2 linked regions of the Homo sapiens genome follow. The protein of the gene in region 1 purifies or fractionates together with the protein of each later gene. This does not show direct contact. Each region holds a gene or a part of one and is shown in the gene's direction. Other genes may lie near its edges.

Region 1 (9,096 bases):
GGCATTCAACACAGTCATCTAAGAAAGAAGAGATATAGCTAACCTCAAATTAGAATTATTAGAATATGAACAGCATGGAATTCCCATAAAGGACCACATCCACTGTCCCTTCAACCTAGACTGTGTCTCTGACAAGAATCCTGCTACAAATCACACTCCAATGTCCAGGAAGAGATCCTCATGTAGTTCTCTAAGTGCCACTTCTTTCATAGCTCCTGCTCTGAGACTCGGTGAGCAGGTTGGTGTTAAGTTCTGCTGTACTCTATCATGTCAGAGATTTTGATCACACCTTCTCTCAGCTTTTATTCTCCGTATTAGACTCCTTATCTTTGGAATCTGACTTTGAATGATAAAATAGTTGAGTCTGGGATTTATTTAGGAATTGTACCTGAAGCATGTTACACTGATTTAGGAGGAGTTTCGTGAGCTTGGATCAGGAAACTACATCCTGTGGAAGAAAGAAGAAAACAATAAAGCCTTTGTAATTCAAGAGAAGAAGGAGATAGCAGGAATGCTTTGAATGACGATCTCCTCTCTGTGTCTTTTCCAGACTCCTTAATCCTGCAGGCACCATATTCTGTGTTTGAAGGTGACACATTGGTTCTGAGATGCCACAGAAGAAGGAAAGAGAAATTGACTGCTGTGAAATATACTTGGAATGGAAACATTCTTTCCATTTCTAATAAAAGCTGGGATCTTCTTATCCCACAAGCAAGTTCAAATAACAATGGCAATTATCGATGCATTGGATATGGAGACGAGAATGATGTATTTAGATCAAATTTCAAAATAATTAAAATTCAAGGTGAATCTTTCAGTTCATATAGATTTGCTTAGTAATGACAGGGATAGGAAACTGAGCATGTAAGGAAAGAATTTACGGGTTACTATTGAAACTCTGGATAGATGAGAGGCACAAATCCTCTAAGAGGCAGAGAAAGTGGGGTGATTGGACCTGAATAATCCTGTAGAAGAAAACTGTGATAGAGGGCTTGATAAGTTTGTCTTGCTGTGTGTCTGAAGTTTCCTGGGACTGAGCATCCAAACCTGTCTCTCACAGAGTCCTAAATACTCTCGTGCTCAGAACTTGACTTACCTCTTCTCTCTAGAACTATTTCCACATCCAGAGCTGAAAGCTACAGACTCTCAGCCTACAGAGGGGAATTCTGTAAACCTGAGCTGTGAAACACAGCTTCCTCCAGAGCGGTCAGACACCCCACTTCACTTCAACTTCTTCAGAGATGGCGAGGTCATCCTGTCAGACTGGAGCACGTACCCGGAACTCCAGCTCCCAACCGTCTGGAGAGAAAACTCAGGATCCTATTGGTGTGGTGCTGAAACAGTGAGGGGTAACATCCACAAGCACAGTCCCTCGCTACAGATCCATGTGCAGCGTGAGTGTTGGAGAGCCAGGCATCTTCCCTGCCTCTCTCTGCCCCTTGGGCTCTGTAGGCATGGGGACTATGTAGCAGAGATGGGTTTTATCATCCTGACAGAGGCACCAGGCTTAGGCCAAGAAGTGCAGTACTATAATAAAAGAAATACATGACTTCTTTTCTACCTCCATTTTCCTAAAAACTCAGTCTTCCTTTGAAATTCTATCACTTCAGAATCACAGCTGACTCATGGAGTTAGGTTTGAGAGCTATGGAAAACAAAACAAAACAAGAAAATGAGGTGCCCTGCTAGGGATTTGGCAGATTCTAGAATGGCTAGATCTTAAGGATAACTATTTAGAAGACAAGCATCCACCTTTTCCTGGTCAGTAGCAATGAACAGTGTGAGTGCCTATGATGTGTACAGCAGAAAAGAAGGAGAGATAGATAGATAGATAGGCCCAATAAATATCACTTAGGTACAAAATTATGACTTTTGAAAACAGATGTGGTCCAGCCTAGTGCCATGATGGCTGCTATTGCTATTACCTGCCCCTCAAAACAACTCAGACCTCCAGCCAGGATGTCAGACAAAACCCAAATGCTTCTTCAGGGTTAGTCCTTTTTTCTTTCCTGGGGCCTCGTATATCAGGATGGAAAGCTTATCACATTTAGTGATATTCTCAGCGCTAAATCTGTGGTCTATTGGCCACAATGCTAGTGCCTGCTGAAGAGTATATCTTGAAGTCACATAAAAAGTAACCCTGCCCAACACCCCAGCTACCTAGCCCTGCCCTCCTTCACACCCGACCCCCACCTGTGGTCTCATTTTCACATAGGGATCCCTGTGTCTGGGGTGCTCCTGGAGACCCAGCCCTCAGGGGGCCAGGCTGTTGAAGGGGAGATGCTGGTCCTTGTCTGCTCCGTGGCTGAAGGCACAGGGGATACCACATTCTCCTGGCACCGAGAGGACATGCAGGAGAGTCTGGGGAGGAAAACTCAGCGTTCCCTGAGAGCAGAGCTGGAGCTCCCTGCCATCAGACAGAGCCATGCAGGGGGATACTACTGTACAGCAGACAACAGCTACGGCCCTGTCCAGAGCATGGTGCTGAATGTCACTGTGAGAGGTGAGTTTTAATCTCTATTGACCTTATTTATTCTCAGCAAACTTCCTCAAATTAAGGGTGGGGATAGCTAACATTACCCTGTGACTCTGCTGTTTCTGTTTCCATTTTGCCATGCTCCACTGTGATAAACAATTTCTTCCATTAGAATAGTAATAACTCACTCAGGTCAGAGTAAGGTCCTGTAGTGAGGTAATGGTGGCTGGGAGCCATTTTGCTTTTTGGAGGTGATTTTGTTTGTCTGTGTTTGGGTCCATTGTGTGTTTATCTCCAAGAGGAGCCTTACTTCATTAGCAGTGTTTCTGGGTGGGGCACAGCTCTGTCACCCTACCGTGTCATCCTACAGTATCAACTACACCTCTCCTTTCAGTAAATCATTCACACACACCACACACATCAGACCTGCAGCCTCAAGTCCACAGAACCAAAAGCACAAGGCATTCCTTTACTTCATTACTATAATAGAATCCTGAGGGATTCTCAGCAGCCAAATTGTATGTGGGTCAGGAAACTCACAAGAAGCAGGGAGAGCAGATACAGAGCCCACTTTTGTCCATTGAGGAGAGAAGCCTTACTTTGGGATATCACAGGTTTAGCTCATATACATCTCTTCCTCCATCGCTGAGAAGCCACACTGGGCCAAGCTATGTTCTCACTCAGCTACCTTGGCACTAAGGAAGTGGTCTTTACTGGGCTTCAATTCCTCCTCAATCTCAGGTTTAGTTGTATTCCTGTCTCTCTGAAAAAGGAAAGAAAGAAAGAAAGAAAGAAAGAAGGAAAGAAAGAAAGAAAGAAAGAAAGAAAGAAAGAAAGAAAGAAAGAAAGAGAGAGAGAAAGAAAGAGAGAAGGAAGGAAGGAAAGGAGGAAAGAGAAAGAAAGAAAGAGGGAAAGGAAGGAAAGGAAGGAAAGAAAGGAAAGAAAGGAAAGGAAAGAAAGGAAAGAGGAAAGAAAGGAAGAATCTAGCTTTTATTAAGTTACTGGAAAGCTAGATTTCCCTGCTTTTCTATACAATAAAACTCCTCAATTCACTCTCCTTACCTCCCTGATTTTTTCTTAAACCCATCACCACCAGGCTTGCCTCACTCCACCAAAATTACTAATGATCTCCATATTTCTAAGGCCAGTGGAAAACTGTTCCCATTTGATTTGACCTACCTCCAGCTTTTGATACAATTGATCCCTCCCTCCTTCTTGAAACATTTTCCTGCTCAATTTCTGGGACATAACCTGTTAGTATTCTATCTATTCAGCAGATACTTTTTTAAAGTTTTCTTTCCAGATCCTTATAATATTTCCAACTTCTAAATTTTGGGGACTGCTCCCCAAAAACAGCTGCACTGTTTATACAAAGTCAGCTCTGACGGTCAAAGCCATAAACCTGAACAGTTTAGTCAGAGGCTCCAGCAAGGGGTTGCTATGCGAATGGCCCAGATGCGGCTCAACTTTCCCTTCAACTCCCTTGAGGCAAGTCTTATGATCAAGCAGGGCCCACCAGGTTAAGAGACTGAGGTGTTTCCCCAGAACTAAGTACCACAGCAATCTGCATCTCAGTCTGGGAACATCACTGGGTGTAATTCCCAGCAGAGAAGGACTGAGACTGAGCTAATGTCATTTCAATGACTTTTTTTTTTTTTTAAGATGGGGTCTCTCTCTGTTGTCCAGAGTGGAGTTCAGTGGCGTGATCTTGGCTCACTGCAGCCTTGACCTTCTGGGTTCAAGCGATCCTCCCACCTCAGCCTCTCAAATAGCTGGGACTACAGGCATGTGCCACCATGGCCAGCTATTTTTTTTTTAATTTATTTTTCATAGAGAAAGGTTCTCACTACGTTGCCCAGTCTGGTCTTGAATTCCAGGGCTCAATGGCATTTCAAGAATCAGATTAGGGGAGAGGAAGAAGGGATTAGCAAAACTGCAAGCTGCCAAGGGCTCCCTCGAAAGACTCCTGAATGCCCTGAAATCCAGAGTAACACTGATGGTAGAGGGTGTTTCTTCTGCAGGAAGGCTCTTATTCTGAAAAGTTTACCTCAGGAAGTTCAAAGATTATAATCTCTGAGGAGATAACAGTGAATCTGTTGGTAAGTATAAATTATTCCTCTTCCTTTTGGGGGTTAAGATCATCAGAATGGATCAGCTTCTCCTGATCCAGGCAGTGAACTGGCCACTTCACATGTATCATTTCATTTTATTCTCATGACAGCCCTGGAAAGCAGGTGTCAACATCTGTTAAGGAAACAGATGATCTCAAAGATTAAACAAACGTCAAGGATCCAGTGATGTTTGCTGGAATAGGGATTCCCTCCTAAATATTTTTTAATCATGGACTTTATGCAAAATCCCCGTGCTTAGAAATAGGAGAATATATAGCAAAGAGAGAAACTCTGCAGTAGCCTCATGCACTGGGCTAAGGTGGGCTGTCTCAGGCAGCTTGAACTGCCATAACCAAACACCAGGGACTGGGGAGCTTAAAAAACAGAAATCTATTTCCTCATAGTTCTGGAGGCTGGAAGTCTGGGATTAGTGCACTAATATAATTTGGATTCTTGTGAGGGCTCTCTTTCTGGCTTACAGAAGGCTACCTGCTTGCTGTGTCCTTACATGGCAGAGAGAGAGAGCAGCACAACCTTTCTGGTGTTTCTTCTTAGAAGGGCACTAATCCTATCTTTGGGGCCCCACCCTCATGATTTCATCTAAATCTGATTACCTCTCAAAGGCCCTGTCTCCAAATACCATCACATTGGGGTTAGAGCTTCAGCGTATGAATCTGGGGGAGAAGGGCACAAATCAATCCATAGCATGGACTGAGGATGTCTGGGGTAGGGCTGTGTGGGAGCAGGCTTAACCTATGGAGGTGTCCTCTAAGCTAATCAGAGAGCAGCCTGAATTTCCTGAGAGTCTAGGGCATGGTGTCAGGACCACAAAATATGAACTAGTATTTCCCTAGACGTAACACTTAAGTGGCAGGCACTGTTCAAAGCACTTTACATGTATTAACTCATTTACAACAGTAAATAGGAAACTGAGGCAAAGGGAGATTAAATAATTTTCCCTGCCCACACAGTGAGTAAGTTGAGGAGCTGGGATTCTAATCCAACAACCTGGATTTAGAATCTGTGCCTTTCTAACTGAGACAAAATTTCAATTACTTTCCCCAAAGTAGCCATTTCTTTTAGGAAATAGGGTTACCAGGAAGGTAGAGTAACTTGCTTTCTGCCCTTTGAGTCTAGAATCCTAGGCCTGGGTGTGGCTGATTCTGATTTTGCACCGGCGGATGCCCCAGCAGGCAATGGGGAAAGATTCAATACAGGATGTAGTGGCCAAGCCTCTCTGTCCTTAGATTTCTGTCCTGCTCTCCACCGTACTCTTTCAGCTGTTGTGGCTGGGAAGCTGGGCTGGCTGTCCACTGAATACTGTTTATTAGTGGAACCACTCATAGGTCAAAGGGCAGGTTTGTTGATATTGTTGAGGAGGGAAGGATAATATCAGAAATGTCACCAGCCACTCCTAGCCAATGGCTCCTCTGTGCCCAAAATCATAGATGAAAATAAACGGAAATCATGATCAGTGTTGCTGTTGTTCTACTACCTGCATGTTCTCTGTCAATTCTGTGGTACCTGTGTCTGAGGTCTGAATTTGGTTTACCTGGGGACCAAGAATACATATGGGAAAGTACCACGCCCCACTCTCCACTCTCTGTCCCTCTGTCATGCTTTTTGCTCTTTAGCGCATCACTACAGGGCACGGTATAAATTTATTTATTTGTTTATGGCTTGTCTCCCCTCCCTGGGTTATAAACTCAAGAGCCGGGACTTTAACGTCTTGTTCACTCTTGGGTCTTCAAGGGTTAGGTCAATGCCCAGCACAGGGCAGCCTCAGTAAATATTTGTTGTATAAATAAGTAAATTGAATGAAACCTCCTTTTCCGTGGATGAAAGGATAGGAGAACGGACCCCATGGAAATATCAAAAGCCCCTAACAATTTATTGATTATGTGTACTTTTCCATCCGTTTTTTTCTCTCCTGCCCTTCAGAGCACACAGGCACAGGCTTCTATGAGGAAGGAGGCTGATGCCATTTCATCGTGGTGTCCCAATGCGGAGCAATCTCAGAGTTACTGTTGGTTCAACTGGTGCCATAATCAGTGGTGCAATTTTCATTCTCTCTCAGGCAGTTTGCTGTTCCTAAGTTAGGTGCTGCCAAGCCATGATCCCACAGTATCTCTCCAGGTGTCTGGGGGCAATTTGCAGGAAGCCAGCTTACCAGAATACAACATTAGGATTTCCCCTAAATTGTTAGTTTCTAAAATGATTCACTGAAGGTAGAGGGAGCTGCTGTTTCCTCTTGCACTCAGGCCCTGGCCCACCCAATGTGAGCTTTTCTGGCCAAAACCTGGCCCAAGATGTCTTTATGAGACCTAGTCCTTTAGATTTTTCTCTCTTCCAGGGCTCGTTACCCAACCAAGCTGAGGAAAAGGCAATCCCAAACCCTGAACCTCTCCACTGAGATTCACACAGGTCCTTTCCCCTTAGAGACCCCAGGCAACAGAGATGGCCTTGTCGCCGCGGGAGCCACTGGAGGGCTGCTCAGTGCTCTTCTCCTGGCTGTGGCCCTGCTGTTTCACTGCTGGCGTCGGAGGAAGTCAGGTTTGTGCTCTTTTCTTTGCCACAGTTCCTGCCCTGTTCCTTCCCCTGAACTCAGCATGCAGACAGCCTTAGTGGCCACCAGGCCACCACTCCCAAGTCTCCACTCCCAAGTCTCCACTCCCAGCGTTCACACACACTCACGTCCGTCCCTTCCTTAAGGGGCAGTTTTGCAAACAGAAGCCATGAATGAGAGCTGCTCATATCTAGTCTGATTGGCTAAGTCTCAGTGAAGGGGAGGAAGAGTGAAATTTTTAATGTAAAGTTCCAAAAACTTTATCTGAACAGTTTACTTAGGCAGTTTCTTTGGTTCATATAGACTGGCCAGTTAGATACTTCAGCCTATCCTAAATCCACCATAAATGGAGATTCAGAATGAACTAAAGGCTCTGCAGAAATGATTGAGAATAAGAGCTGGCTAATTTTATCCTTCTGTCCCCTCAGGGGCTTTTCTGGGTCTGGCTTTTCAGGGGCTTTTCTGAGCAGGCTTGAGCCTGCCATCTGGTGCTCCAGTGGCCCCTCTCTCCTCAGGTCAGCCTCCCCTGCCTCTTGGAGATGGTCTGTCCCAGGCACTGTTTGCTGCGTGCTTCCAAAGACTTCTTGCCTCAGCCCACCTCAGGCTGGCTTTAGATGCCAAGAAACCTGGTGTAGAAGACAGGAGCAGAACCTTTTTCAGCTCTAGAATAATTACCCACATCCTTCAACTCTGTCTCTTAATTCAATTCAACTTTCCAGATTCCTGACAGCACCTTCTGTGTGTCCTGCATTGAACTGGAGGTAGGGAGCTTTGGACCTCTGACCAATTCTCCTTAGTGGGGCTGAGTCAGAGCCCAGTGCTCCTCTGGGCATGGCCACAGATGTTCCTCGAAGTTCACCCACAGCTCACTACTCTCCAAGTGACACTTTTGTTATATGTAATGTTTCCTGAGGGATTTCAACACAGACTTGAGTCTTAATAAATTCTCAGACAATTACATACTTAACTCAGGAGTGTGCAGTCCTGGCCTCAAAAAGTTATATGCTTTGTACAATCTTTTTTTCACCTCATTTTCATGAAAACCCAGGACTGGGCAGGTGTTTGAATTGACTGTCTTGATTACCTCTCTTAGATAGCTCCTGTTACATGAAGTCATTGAGAAAGAGCTCCCTCTGCTGACAAAAATGCGTCTTTGCTTTATTTTGCAGGAGTTGGTTTCTTGGGAGACGAAACCAGGTGAGACCTCAGTTTCTGCCATTCCTTTTTAGTTTCCCGAGTACACAATATGCAAAACTGTGGGGTTATGAAATTAGGTCAAGTTATACCTCTTTGGCCCTGTGGCTAGATACTTCCATTTTCACACTCCATGAATTTGTCAAAAATGAAGCTTCCTAGAACTTTGCTTGTCAGCTAATAGTTTGCAATACATGCAAAATAATAGATTTCTTATTTGATCTTAACCTACTCATCTAAATGGATAATACCAAAGGTTATAAAGTACAGAATATTTCTTGTACTATAATTAAGTTAGACAATGTGTTACTATAATTATGCATACAATGACTAGAGTCTAGATTTTCTACAAATGTTCTAGGTTTTCCAGAGAACTCTATGTTTCTAATAATCTTCTTTTTGCACCATACACGCATATATACTCATTAAACGTTATGTGCTTAACTTCCATTTGGAAAATACTGTCATCTTCCTCCTTCTATGTCAGTGTCTCAGTCTTAGGTAAGGAATAAGAGTGTGGATTATGTCTAATTCCTTCTTGGATTGTACAGACATTACAATGTAAAGACATTTTATGTATGTATGTATGTATGTATGTATGTATGTATGTATGTATGTATGTATTGTCACCCAGGCTGGAGTGCAGTGGCACGATCTTAGCTCATGGCAACCTCCGCCTCCCAGGTTCAAGTGAGTCTTGTGCCTCAGCTTCCAAAGTAGCTGGGATTACAGGCATGAGCCACCACATCT
Region 2 (8,077 bases), on another chromosome or scaffold:
AAAGAGATTAATTTTAAGAGACCCTTAGTATACATCATCCCAATAGCAGGGTAAATCAGGGCCACGATACTTAGATTTGGAATGTGCTTTTTTTCCTCTCGAATAACCCTGCTGCTCTGTTTAGACTTTGGAGCTATTTGAGGGCTAGCCTTTAGCAGTCAAATCAGATGCCTAAGATGAGTGACTAGTAGAGGAGGGCACCTTGAGGGCAGGGTCCCGCTTTAACTCTTTTGTCCCACCCTTCCCCACCCCCTTCACCCTAATCTGCATTGGGTAGACATGAGATGACCAGTAGTGTCTGGCAGGCTGCTTAGTGCCTGCTGATGCACACCAGTATTGGTGGTCCTGGGGATGCTCAGACCCCACTTGGGTGGTGTGGCAGCAGCTTTGAAACCCTGCCTCTGGCCATCTGCTGTTAGTAGGGTTGGAAGGCCAGGGTCTTGGAAGGGAAGGGAAGCTGACAAACTAGAAAAACTGATCACAGCACACAACAGTGTTCCTCCATGGATCACTGAATGAAAACCTCGGTGCCAGGAACTCCTCCAACTGAGTTAGGTTGGATTATTATTTCCACTGCATAGATGAGGAAACTAAGGTTTCGAGAATTTAGGTGACTTGCTCAACAGCTAGAGCCAGGCTTGTAATATAGGCTCACCTACTCCAAATCCTGTGCTCAGAACCACAACAACTTGCCCTGGATTAAAATAGCACCTGGCACTTGGTGTCACTAGGCCGATGGTTCTCAGCCCTGGCTGCACAGCTGAGGCACTAGATTGAGCTAGAATCTTTGGGACAGATTCTAGCTCCTTCTTGAAACTAGAATCCTTCTTGAAGCTCCTTGAGTGATTTTGATGGGCTGCCAGGGTTTCAAACCACTATACCAGGTTAAACCATTTTGACAGTAGAGACCAGCCGGGAAATGATTACCCCCATGTAACTGGCTTTTGCATATACGACCTTTCTGCTTACATTAGGGACAGGACTATTTGTTCATGTGATTCAAAATGTACCAACATCCTGTGCTAGACACTGGGGATACTGAATCAGGCAGAATGACTTCTCACGGAGAGGAAACAGCCCAGGCCAGCCTGGGACCCTGGGAATATGATCCGTTGAGTGCTTCCTACTACTTCTGGCATGTCCCAGCCCTCCTGAGCAAGCAGGGTTGCTGTCTACTCTGTCCTATAATTCCCTCTGAATCTTGGGCTCCTTTGACTGGTGCTGATATTTTTTTCCTCCAGGAGACTTAAGGGACAGGGAAAAAAGTAGAAGAATGAAAGTAGGGCATGCAGTGTTAGAGGAGAGAAGATGCAGGAATGGGGCTCGTTAATATCTGAGTAATGAGTTTGCATTGCTGGCAGGGTGAGAGTGTGTGTGTTTAGGAGGCTGGGTTCAGAACGGGTGGTGCAGTCTGCATAAGTCTAGACAAGGTCACAGAAGTTCTTAAAAGTGAAATCTGACCAGCCTCTCCCATTGCCAGAACAAAAGCACCAAATTCCATTTTTTTTTTTTTTTTTTTTTTTGAGAGAATCTCGCTCTGTTGCCCAGGCTGGAGTACAGTGGTGCGATCTTGGCTGACTGCCACATCTGCCTTCTGGGTTCAAGCGATTCTCTTGCCTCAGCCTCCCGAGTAGCTGGGATTACAGACTCGCGCCACCACAGCCAGCTAACTTTTGTATTTTTTAGTAGAGACGGGGTTTTGCCATGTTGCCCAGGCTAGTCTCACACTCCTGGCCTCAAATGATCTGCCCTCCTCGGCCTCCCAAAGTGCTGGGATTCCAGGCGTGAACCACCACACCCGGCCCCTAATTCCATTCTTGATTGCTCCATCACACTGCTTGCTCTCAGGTTTCTGCTGAATAATGCTCCTTGGTCCTCTCAACTTCCAATTCTTTGATGTATTTTGACTCCTCCCCCATCCAGCCACCCCATCCCCCCATCATGTCAAGACTGGGTTGAGGGGGGGTATCTTGGCAAGTGAAGAGGCAGAATCTAGGGTGACTAACATGACTGAATTGCAAATAGCTGTTGATGAAAAAGAGGGCACAGCACTGCAATACATCCAGATTCCCAGGTATCTCATCTGGACTCCGGTGGCTGATGGGATTCTTGATTATGGAGTGCTCCCCGCCCCAACCCTGAGGCTATCTGTGGAAAGGCAATGGGTTGAGTTTGAGTTTTCTCCATCATACCGCAGGGAGGGAGGAAGTGACTGTTGTGATTATAGCAGACGGCAGTTAGAGAAGTGACTGCTGCTTACTCCCCACAGGATGGTGAGCAGGGCTTCTCAGAGGAGGTGGGAAATTCTCCCGCGGTGGGTAGAGTGAGGAATGTTTTATGGGCCCAGAAAATCAAGAGCAGCTTCACACATACTCTCATGTCTCTTATCTTTGAGCCACTCAGTGGCTCTTGACCCAGTCAAGGGCTGCCGATGAGAATTACCTGGAGAGATTGAAAACGTAACAGATTCAGAGATCCAGATTTAGTTGGTCTCCACTGGAATGTTTTTTTAAAGTTCTCCAGATGGTTCTAATGTGCAGCTGGAGCTGAGGAACTTACTGAAGCAAATGCTTCTTCCTCCTAATTGTAGGCATAGTTGCGCTAGACCTTTGGAGGGCCTGAGACCTTCTGTTCTTCATCATAATTTTAAGTGTTCACCTACCATCTTCTGATACCACCACTACCACTCCACCCCTGTCTTTACTCCTAGCAAGACAACCTTAGCCTGTAGCTGTATTCTTATTTTACAACTGGGAAAGCAGGCCTGGAGAAGTTAAGGGACTTTCACAGTGTACCAGGTCATACCTACTGCAGAAACCAGGGTTTCTTATTCCCATTCCAGAACCTTGTCTGTAGATCTCATGCATGACTTCCAGGGTCGTGATTTTTTTGTCTGAAATATTCTAGAGAAGTGACTTCTACCCACCCTAGTTGTCATCCTCCCTATCTTCTTGGACTCTCTCTGTGATAGAAGGGAGTAATTTAGAACCTGGAATCAGGGTCGGGTGTGGTGGCTCATGCCTGTAATCCCAGCACTTTGGGGGGCCAAGGCAGGTGGATCACGAGGTCAGGAGATCGAGACCATCCTGGCTAACACAGCGAAACCCCGTCTCTACTAAAGATACAAAAAATTAGCCGGGTGCAGTGGCGGGTGCCTGTAGTCCCAGCTACTTGGGAGACTGAGGCAGGAGAATGGCATGAATCTGGGAGGTGGAGTTTGCAGTGAGCCAAGATCGCGCTACTGCACTCCAGCCTGGGCAAAAGAGCGAGACTCCATCTCAAAAAAAAAAAAAAAGAACCTGGAATCAGAAGACCTGGATTTGAATCCTGCTTCTGCCGAGGGTGTTCTTGGACCCCATCCAAGCCTTAGTTATAATAATCCCTTGTGGAGTGGGTGTGGGAATGAAACAGAACGTTCTTTGGAAACTTTAAGATGCTTGGTAAATGCTACTTCCTTGGAGCAATTATCTCATCAGCATCTGTCGGGACCCAGGTTGTACTCTCCAAGGACCGATAGGTCAGGGGGAGACGGATCAGACTAGATCAGACTTGTACATGGGAAAGAGTGAAGCCGGCTCCCTCCTTTCTCTCTGCAGGACGGGTTTGGGCCTTGCTTGTGGCCTTCAGCAGTCTCTTCTCATTTATGCCCGAGACCATGGGTGCACAATCCTTTTTTTGGCACTGGCTAGAGTGAAGAATAAGGGCTAATAGATTTCCCCACACCCTTGCCTCCACCTTGCTGCCCAGCCAGAAATCTTCCCAGTAGAGATCACCATCCGCCCCCGACCCCCAAGCTGAATACTTAAGGGGTGGGTCCTTCCCATCAAGCTGATTTCTCAACGAGAGGGACAATCCCAGCTTCCCCAACATTGCAGAGCCCAAACATGTGGAAGAGTTGGAAGCTCCGCACAGATGTCAGAGTAAGGGAGGGGGCAGGCGGTTCTCCTTGTGCCTCTTCCCAGCCCGGTAGCAGGGGCCCATGCTTCCTCCCTGGTCTGTCCTCGCAGGAGGTGTCCAGGCGGAGGCAGTTCCTGCGGGAGCATGCGGCCCCCTTCTCCGCCTTCCTCACAGACAGCTTCGGCCGGCAGCACAGCTACCTGCGGATCTCCCTCACAGAGAAGTGCAACCTCAGATGTGAGTCACCTTCCTGGGCCCTCTCTGGGCTGGTGTCCATCTGCTGAAGCAGCCCTTGAAATTTCCCTGTGCCTGGAAATCCTCCTGTGTCCTCCAGTTCTGCTTTCTAACTTCTTCACCTGCTACCCCTTGCTTACCAGGCCAGGTGGGCTTCAGGGGCAAGATAGGGGTCAAGGCTGAGTTGTATGATTATAGAAGCTGTGTCCTACTTGGAATTAGATTTGAAAACATAAATGCAGTTGGATTTAGAATTAAGATTGGATCCTGGACCTCTCATTCTTCAGGGGTCCTTCCTCCTGTTTCCCTGTAGTTCCCGAAGTCCAGGACATGGCCAGGGGTGGGGTGGTGGACATTATAAACATTTGAAGTAGACAGCCATGCCCATGCCAGCACTGCTGACTCTGGAGGTGCCCCAGTCCCGTGACAAATCAGCTGGGGCTAGGCTAATAACAAAGAGGCCTCATTTCATAATCCTCCCAAAGAGTGCTCTGGATCTGTAGCCACTGCTGGAGGGACTTCCAAAGTTGATCTTCCTTCCCCTCTGTTCCTTCCTTCTGCCTCTCCCCACTTTCCCCTCCCCTTCCCCCCTTCCCCCCCTTCTTTTCCTCCCCACTTTCTTTCACTATACCTCACGATAAGAAATAAAGTTACTTCATGGCCCAATAAATGCATGCATGTATGTTTAGTAACTTTTTAACCAAACAAGATGTACTATATGCTTTACATTCTGGTAGTCTTACTTATTCTCTTCAGTCTCAAAGGACTGGTTCTGGACCCAACTGAGTAATTTGCCTTCATGACTCTCTAACAGATCTTGACCCAAACCTTAATGAAACTGCACCACAGGAAGTGATGGTGGAGGATGGTGGCCCTTCCACAGCCTGCCGCTGCTCACCTCATTTACCCCATTCTGATACCTCACCATGAACAAGTAGTATCTCAGTTTTCCAACATATAAAATGGGTCTGATGATAACCTGAAATAGATAGAGTGGATTTGAGAATGCTTGTAGCTACAGAGGACGGCAGCTTTTGCCAGGCCAGAGAGTACCTCTCTCTCACCCCATGACACACAGAGAGAAAGCTACCTGTTTGCCATAGCCAGTGAAATGCAGGAGGATGGGTGACAATGCCAGGAGGAACGCCCCTGCCCAGGTGCCCTCAGCCCAGGAAGTCAGGCCAGGCTCTGCCCTCAGCCTACTTCATCTCTAACCCATGCCCTTGGCCTCCCACTGAGGGATGTTATGGCCAGATTGTGTGTGTTGGGCATAGGGAAAGGTGTTAACGTTTCAGAAATGAGAAAGGTGAGGCCTGGGGAGATGCTGGCCTGGGGTTTTTCCACCTCAGGTTTAGTGAGGTCTCCGCTCACATCCAGATGGGTTTGAGAAGCCTTTGGCCTGATGGAGAGTTGGGGAGTGGAGGCATCACGGGGCTGTGGCCGTGCCTCTTTCCTCCCTCCACATTCCCATTCATCCTTCCCTCAGGTCAGTACTGCATGCCCGAGGAGGGGGTCCCGCTGACCCCCAAAGCCAACCTGCTGACCACAGAGGAGATCCTGACCCTCGCCCGGCTCTTTGTGAAGGAAGGCATCGACAAGATCCGGCTCACAGGTGGAGAGCCGCTTATCCGGCCGGACGTGGTGGACATTGTGGGTGAGTTGGACGAAAGTCATCGCCACTTCTCCCAGCGCTGCCTCATCCGGCTGGACACTGATGCCGATGTTAACAGTGGCAGCTGACATTCATTTAGCACATGACACTCTCTTGGTCCTACAACACCTGCTGAGACAGGTGCTATTATTATTTCCATTTTTGATGAGAAAATGAGGCTTAGGTTGGATAACTTGCCCAAGGTCAGGAAGCTCGCAAATGCCAGACCTCAGTAGCTTGCTGTCACATTGAGACCAAGGTCCTCCAGGAGGCCCACGTGACCTGGCTCTTGCTGACCTCCAAAACCCTTGCAGGCTTCTCCACCTTTCCCCTCCTTCCCATTCACATGACCGGGCCTTGACATGTGCTGTTCCCTTTGCTAGGAGCTCAGGGCACTCTCCTCGACCTCATTCAGGTCTCTGTTCACATGTCATCTTCTCAGCAAGGCCTTCCTCAACCATCCTGTCTAAAGTGCGTCCTCATGTACTCACACCAGCCACTCTTTCCCAGAAATTGGCAAGTTATAGCAGCCAAATCTGGGCCGACATGTGTTTTTGTCTAACGTGCAAACTGAGTGTTGTTTGTTTGTTTGTTTGTTTTTGAGATAGAGTCTCGCTCTGTCACCTAGGCTAGAGTGCAGTGGCAGGATCTCGGCTCACTGCAACCTCCACCTCCCAGGTTCAAGTGACTCTCCTTCCTCAGCCTCCAGAGTAGCTGGGCTTACAGGCACACACCGCTATGCCTGGCTAATTTTTTGTGTTTTTAGCAGAGACGGGGTTTCACCATGTTGGCTAAGCTGGTCTCGAAACCCTGACCTCAAGTGATCCACACACCTCGGCCTCCCAAAGTGCTGAGATTACAGGCGTGAGCCACTGCATCCTGCCATGGTTTTTATGCTCCTAAATAATGGGGAAAAAAATAAAATAATAACATTTTCTACCACACGAAAATTATAAAATCCTATATGTTCAGTGTCTATTAATGGAGTTTTATTGGAATATAGCCATGCCCATTCATTTACATATTGCCCATGGCTGCTTTGGCAGAGTTGCATGGTGTTGACAAAGACTGTGTTGCAAAGCTGGCCAGCCAAGTAGAAAATATTTACTATCTGGACTTCCACAGAAAAAGTGTGGCAACCCCTGCCCTACTCACTTACCCTACTTTGTTTTGCTTCATAGCATTTATCTCATCCTGGCACTGTGTGTTTGGGTTGTGTGTTTGGTTTCTTTAATTGTCTGTCTCCTGCATTCGCTGGCGTGAAAGCTCTCAGGTTGCTGGAGCAGGTTTTGTTTTTGGCATCCAGTACCGTGCCTGACACGTGGTTGATGCTCCCTGAAATTCGCTGAATGAATGGAGACTGGGTCAGAGTAGTCTCTGCAGTACGGCATATTCCTATCTGAGTCTCCACTGTGCCTCTTACAAGAAGCGTACCTTGGGCAACTTTTAAAATCTGTTCTAAGCCTTGAGGCAGTGATAGTACCTACCTTATAAGGTTGACCTGAGGAGGGAATGAGAATGAAATGCCCAGCCTATGGCAAGTGCTCTGTAAAGGTAGCTCTAAAGGGCCTCTTGCCATGAGCTTCTAAACCCCAAGATCAGGAAAGAGACCTTTGCTCATGTAATTATAGGTGATGAAATCGGGGCTATGAGGTTCCATGTTCTTGATTGCTGCCCCGTCCAGCTGCTTTGGACAGGACCCCCCGCCCCTCAGCTCTCTAGCTCAGTAATTGTTCGCTGGAGTGCCCTCTTGCATGCCTCCTACTGTGCTGAGCACACGAAGATGAATGAGCACCAGCCCTGCTGTTGAGGACCTGTGGCCCACTGGAGGAAGCAGCTGCTGTATAAGGGGAGCCTAGGTGCTGTGAGAGTCCCAAGGAGGGGCCCAGGTCCCCCTGACAGCCCTCTTCTCCCTCCTGCCCCATGGCCAGCTCCCTTCAGCTCCTACTGGTCACTTGGCCTGGGAACCTCTGTCATCCTGTGCTGGCTGAGCTGGCCCAGGCAAGCTGACCCCATGTTCCAGGCAGCTCCTCAGGGCTAAAAGGCAGGCTGGCTGCCAGGAAAGGGCTGAACCTGCTGAACCAGCTGCTTGCCAGGCCCAGCCCCCTCATCCAGGCCACTTCCTCTCCCTGGCACCCGCGGGCATGGGCCGCCTTGTGCCAGGACCTGTGAGAGAGCAGAGGGGATGAGGATCACTCACTGGTCAGGGAGGTACAGGATGGCTGAGCACTGGTATGAGGACTCGGGGCTCTCCCGGGAAACCCCAGCATGCAGAGAGGGAAGAATGGGAGCCAG

The links. The genes of interacting proteins can lie anywhere in the genome.
Region 2: the proteins of FCRL4 (region 1) and MOCS1 purify together in Homo sapiens (affinity purification with mass spectrometry; 2 studies listed by BioGRID and IntAct, with this or other methods). This does not show direct contact.

The regions. Positions count from the first base shown.
Region 1 is NC_000001.11:157,579,574-157,588,669, reverse strand, and holds part of FCRL4 (Fc receptor-like protein 4 precursor), read left to right. Parts: intron 1-550; coding exon 551-805; intron 806-1,109; coding exon 1,110-1,394; intron 1,395-2,214; coding exon 2,215-2,502; intron 2,503-7,025; coding exon 7,026-7,139; intron 7,140-8,321; coding exon 8,322-8,349; intron 8,350-9,096. UniProt on the Homo sapiens protein: May function as an inhibitor of the B-cell receptor signaling. May function in the B-cell-mediated immune response.
Region 2 is NC_000006.12:39,923,386-39,931,462, reverse strand, and holds part of MOCS1 (molybdenum cofactor biosynthesis protein 1), read left to right. Parts: intron 1-3,746; exon of another isoform or gene 3,747-3,884; coding exon of another isoform or gene 3,885-4,007; coding exon 4,008-4,134; intron 4,135-5,617; coding exon 5,618-5,785; intron 5,786-8,077. UniProt on the Homo sapiens protein: Isoform MOCS1A and isoform MOCS1B probably form a complex that catalyzes the conversion of 5'-GTP to cyclic pyranopterin monophosphate (cPMP).